Linked DNA regions of Homo sapiens: region 2 is linked to region 1. Evidence: fine-mapped expression QTL. Tissue or cell type: neural progenitor cells. Region 1 holds a variant in brackets; the other region holds the start of a gene. All regions are shown on one strand. Distances are between the middles of the regions. Region 1 overlaps NOPCHAP1 (NOP protein chaperone 1). Region 2 holds the start of NOPCHAP1 (NOP protein chaperone 1).

Evidence for each region. PIP is the estimated chance that this variant, and not a neighbour inherited with it, causes the effect.
Region 2: it holds the start of NOPCHAP1, and the variant in region 1 is the best candidate, but not a certain one, in a credible set for the expression of NOPCHAP1 in neural progenitor cells (Aygun 2021, PIP 0.60).

The regions. Positions count from the first base shown.
Region 1 is chr12:105,007,813-105,010,832 of GRCh38, forward strand. It overlaps NOPCHAP1 (NOP protein chaperone 1), which reads left to right. Exons shown (of 4, transcript NM_152318.3): 4 at 1-3,020. Among named protein-coding and RNA genes, the nearest start is that of NOPCHAP1, 23 kb to the left of the region's middle. The variant A/G (reference allele first, on the strand shown) is at 1,215.
Region 2 is chr12:104,984,980-104,987,479 of GRCh38, forward strand. It overlaps NOPCHAP1 (NOP protein chaperone 1), which reads left to right and starts at 1,337. Exons shown (of 4, transcript NM_152318.3): 1 at 1,337-1,488. The coding sequence starts at 1,374. It overlaps LOC105369952 (a long non-coding RNA gene), which reads right to left and starts at 1,391. Exons shown (of 2, transcript XR_007063436.1): 1 at 1,324-1,391. RefSeq lists enhancers at 991-1,503, 1,504-2,014 and a silencer at 1,567-1,816.

The DNA of each region.
Region 1 (3,020 bases):
CTGTCCCTGCAAAGGACATGAACTCATCCTTTTTTATGGCTACATAGTATTCCATGGTGTACATATGCCACATTTTCTTTATCTAGTCTATCACTGATGGGCATTTGGGTTGGTTCCAAGTCTTTGCTATTGTGAGCAGTGCTGCAGTAAACATACATGTGTCTTTATAGTAGAATGATTTATAATCCTTTGGATATATACCCAGTAATGGGATTGCTGGGTTAAATGGTATTTCTAGTTCTAGATCCTTGAGGAATTGCCACACTGTCTTCCACAATGGTTGAACTAATTTACAATCCCACCAACAGTGAAAAGTGTTCCTGTTTCTCCACATCCCCTCCAGCATCTGTTGTTTCCTGACTTTTTAATGATCGCCATTCTAACTGGTAACTCATTGTGGTTTTGATTTGCATTTCTCTAATAACCAGTGATGATGAGCTTTTTTCATGTTTGTTGGCCGCATAAATGTCTTCTTTTGAGAAGTGTCTGTTCGTATCCTTCGCCCACTTTTTGATGGGGTTGTTTTTTTCTCGTAAATTTGTTTAAGTTCTTTGTAGATTATGGATATTAGCTCTTTGTCAGATGGATACATTGCAAAAACTTTCTCCCATTCTATAGGTTGCTGGTTCACTCTGATGATAGTTTATTTTGCTGTGCAGAAGCTCTTTAGTTTAATTAGATCCCATTTGTCTATTTTAGCTTTTGTTGACATTGCTTTTGGTGTTTAGTCATGAAGTCTCTGCCAATGTCTGTGTCCTAAATGGTATTGCCTAGGTTTTCTTCTAGGGTTTTTATGGTTTTAGATCTTACATTTAAGTCTTTAATCCATCGTGAGTTAATTTTTGTATAAGGTGTAAGAAAGGGGTCCAGTTTCAGTTTTCTGCATATGGCTAGCCAGTTTACCCAACACCATTTATTAAATAGGGAATCTTTTCTCCATTGCTTGTTTTTGTCAAGTTTTTCAAAGATCAGATGGTTGTAGATGTGTGGTATTATTTCTGAGGCCTCTGTTCTGTTCTGTTGGCCTGTATATCTCTTTTGGTGCCAGTACTGTGCTGTTTTGGTTACTATAGCCTTGTAGTATAGTTTGAAGTCAGGTAGCGTGATTCCTCCAGCTTTGTTCTTTTTGCTTAGGATTGTCTTGGCTATATGGGCTCTTTTTGGGTTTCATATGAAATTTAAAGTAGTTTTTTCTAATTCTGTGAAGAAAGTCA[A/G]TGGTAGCTTGATGGGGATAGCATTGAATCTATAAATTACTTTAGGCAGTATGGCCATTTTCACGATATTGATTCTTCCTATCCATGAGCATGGAATGTTTTTCCATTTGTTTGTGTCCTCTCTGATTTCTTTGAGCAAGTTCTCCTTGAAGAGGTCCTTCACATCCCTAGTAAGTTGGATTCCTAGGTATTTTATTATCTTTGTAGCAATTGTGAATGGTAGTTCACTCATGATTTGGCTCTCTGTTATTGGTATATAGGAATGCTTGTGATTTTTTGCACATTGATTTTGTATCCTGAGACTTTTGCTGAAATTGCTTATCAGCTTAAGGAGTTTTTGGGCTAAGATGATGGGGTTTTCTAAATATCATGTCATCTGCAAACAGGGACAATTTGACTTCCTCTCTTCCTATTTTTATACCCTTTATTTCTTTCTCTTGCCTGCTTGCCCTGACCAGAACTTCCAATACTATGTTGAATAGGAGTGGTGAGAGAGGGCATCCTTGTTTTGTGCTGGTTTTCAAAGGGAATGCTTCCAGCTTTTGCCCGTTCAGTATGATATTGGCTGTGGGTTTGTCATAAAAAGCTCCTATTGTTTTGAAATATGTTCCATCAGTACCTAGTTTATTGAGAGTTTTTAGCATGAAGGGGTGTTGAATTTTATCAAAGGCCTTTTCTGTATCTATTGAAATAATCATGTGCTTTTTGTCATTGGTTCTGTTTATGTGATGGATTATGTTTATTGATTTGTGTATGTTGAACCAGCCTTGCATCCCAGGGATGAAGCTGACTTGATTGTGGTGGATAAGCTTTTTGATGTGCTGCTGGATTCAGTTTGCTGGTATTTTATTGAGGATTTTTGCATTGATGTTCATCAGGGATATTGGCTTGAAATTTTCTTTTTTTGTTGTGTCTTTGCCAGGTTTTGGTATCACGATGATGCTGGTGTCATAAAATGAATTAGGGAGGAGTCCCTCTTTTTCTATTGTTGGGAATAGTTTCAGAAGGAATGGTACCAGCTCCTTTTTGTATCTCTGATAGAATTCTGCTGTGAATCCTTCAGGTCCTGGGCTTTTTTTGGTTAGTAGTCTATTAGTTACTGCCTCAATTTCAGAACTTGTTATTGGTCTATTCAGGGATTCAACGTTTTCCTGGTTTAATCTTGGGAGAGTGTATGTGTCCAGGAATTTATCCATTTCTTCTAGATTTTCTAGAGGTGTTTATAGTTATTTGTATAGAGTTGTTTATAGTATTCTCTGATGGTGGTTTGTATTTCTGTGGGATCAGTGATGATATCCCCTTTATCATTTTTTATTGTGTCTGTTTGATTCTTCTCTCTTTTCTTCTTTATTAATTGGGCTTGTGGTCTATCTATTTTGTTAATCTTCTCAAAAAACCAGCTCCTGGATTCGTGGATTTTTTGAAGGGTTTTTTGTGTCTCTATCTCCTTCAGTTCTGCTCTGATCTTAGTTATTTCTTGTCTTCTGCTAGCTTTTGAATTTGCTTGCTCTCGCTTCTCTGGTTCTTTTAATTGTGATGTTAGAGTATCGATTTTAGATCTTTCCCGCTTTCTCCTGTGGGCATTTAGTGCTATAAATTTCCCTCTAAACACTGCTTTAGCTGTGTCCCAGAGATTCTGGTATGTTGTGTCTTTGTTCTCATTGGTTTCAAATAATTTATTTATTTCTGCCTAAACTTCGTTATTTACCCAGTAGTCATTCAGGAGCAGGTTGTTCAGTTTCCACATAGTTGTGCATTTTTTAGTGAATTTCTTAATCCTGAGTTTTAATTTGATTGCACTGTGGT
Region 2 (2,500 bases), 23 kb before region 1:
TTAAAAAATGGGTAAAGGAGTTGAATAGTCATTTCTCCAAAGAAGATATATAAATGGCCAACAAGCCCATGAAAAGGTGTTCAGCATCACTAAATCATTAGAGAAATGCAAACCAAAACTTCAAGATATCACTTCACACTCACTGGGATGCTCACTGTCAAAAAGAAAGAAGCAACCAAACAGAAAAAGGAAATATTGACAAGGATGTGGAGAAATTGGAACTCTTGTGCACTGTGGGAATGTAAAATGGTGCAGCCACTATGAAAAACTATACGGAGGCTTCACAAAAACCTAAAAAGTAGAATTACCCTATTATCCAGTAATCCCATGTCTGGGTATGTATCCCAAAGCATTGAAAAGCAGGGTCTCTAAGAGATATTTGTACCACCATGTTCATTGCAGCAGCGTTCACAATGACCACGAGGTGGAAGCAACCAGCACGCCTGTTGAGAGATCAATGGTAAGAAAATGTGGTATATACATACAATGGCATATTATTCAGGCTTAAAAAAGAAGAGAATCCTGTTATGTGCTACAACATGTCTAAACCTTGAGGGTATTATTTTAAGTGAAATTAGTAACAAAAAGGCAAGTACTGTATGATTCCACCTACATAATGTATCTGAAGTAGTCAAGCTCATAGTAACAGAAAGTAGAACGATGGTAGCTGGGCATGATGGCTCACGCCTGTAATCCCAGCACTTTGGGAGGCCAAGGTGGGTGGATCTCCCGAGGTCAGGAAATCAAGATCAGCCCGGCCAACATGGTGAAAACCCGTCTCTATACAAAAATACAAAAATTAGCCGGGCGTGGTAGTGTGCACCTGTAATCTTAGCTACTTGGGAGGCTGAGGCACCAGCCTGGGCGACAGAGCAAGGCTGTTTCAAAAAGAAAGAAACAAAGAAGAAAGTAGAATGGTGGTTACCAAGGGACTGGAGTAGGGGTAAATGGGTATAAGGTTTCAGTTTTGCAAGATGAAAATGATCTAGAGGTCTGCCACCACTGAATTGTACAACTAAAAATGGTTAAGATGGTAGATTTTGTTACGTGTTTTTTCACCAATTAAAAAAAAATTTAATAAAAAAGGATAAAGAGGAGGGAAGCCTAATGTTATGCTCTTTATGCCCGAATTTGGCGAAATCGAGCCTTGCCCGCTGTTTTTTCCTATGACAGTGTCTGAACCTTTCTTTTTCCCAGGAGTAGGAATGGCCCCTGCTCCCGCGCAGCCTCCAGGCTGCACCACGCTCGCCCCGCCTCTCTCTCCGCTCCTTACTCCGCCCACCGCAGTTTCCTCCAATCGCGGCCCTCTCCCCGCCCCCTTACCCGAGCCTTTTTCCTGCATCCGGGCCTGAGAGTGCAGGCTTGAGGGAAGCATGGAGGTCCATGGCAAGCCCAAGGCTAGCCCGAGTTGTTCGTCGCCCACCCGGGATTCCTCAGGAGTCCCAGTGTCCAAGGAGCTGCTGACGGCGGGAAGCGACGGCCGCGGAGGTGACGGACGGGTGACGGCGGCATGGGCCGCACACGTGCGGCAGAGGAGGCGCGGCCGGTGCAGTTTGGGAGCCGGCCGGTGGCTCCCTGCCCGGGCTCCGTACCCTCGAGGGGAGCCCCGGGGACTGCTGCGGGGCTCCGGCGTGCCCTGCCCGCGGCAGGGGTGGGGGCTTTGGGGCGGGCACCCGGCTGCGGGCCCGGAATGGTTTCCCCAGCTAGTGGTTCTTATATTCTGCAAGGTAGTGAGCGCCCACCCTGCCAGGCGCCGCTGCCAGGCATCTGCCCTGCCCTGGAAGCTGGGAAGCTCTCGAGTTCTTTTGGGGAAGGGAGGGCTTTTGGTTTGGCTGCCTGGGTCGGAGCAGTTGGCTGATAGGGGGAAGCGGAGTAATATTATGCTAACAGTCCCTACCTCTTTCACACCCACACAGACCACCCCTTAGTGCTGCTGTCTTGTAGAGGGAGACATGCATCCAGGAAATCCACACAGCATTTCAGACACTATAGGTAGAATTTAAAAGCACGAGTTCGAATCCCAGCTCCACTAGTAATTAACTGGTGGGACTTAGAGTTATTTTCATTCCCTAAGCCTCAGTTTTTGCATTTGGAAAATGGTGATAGTAGTAATGCCTGTAGAATTTTTGTGAGGAGGAGAATGCCTAAAAAGGCTTGGGCATGTTGTCAGTAAATACTAGCTTGAAGAAAAGGTTTTGTGAGAACCCAGAGATTCCGAAGGAAGTATAATAATGATAACCAAAGCTTATGTAGTCCTTACTATGTATGCCCCAGAAACTAACTCATCTAATCCTCACAACAACCCTTTGCAGAAAATCTGTTATCTCTGTTTTATAGTTGAGGAACCTGAGACATGATTTATCATACAGGTAATTTACCTTCTGGAGATCATGTGGCTAGAAAGTAGCAAAACTGGGACTTGAATTCAAGTAGTCTGGCTCCAGACTCTGTGCTCTGATCACGAATCCAGTAGGCCTTAAGTAGTAGGCATTCAATGGAT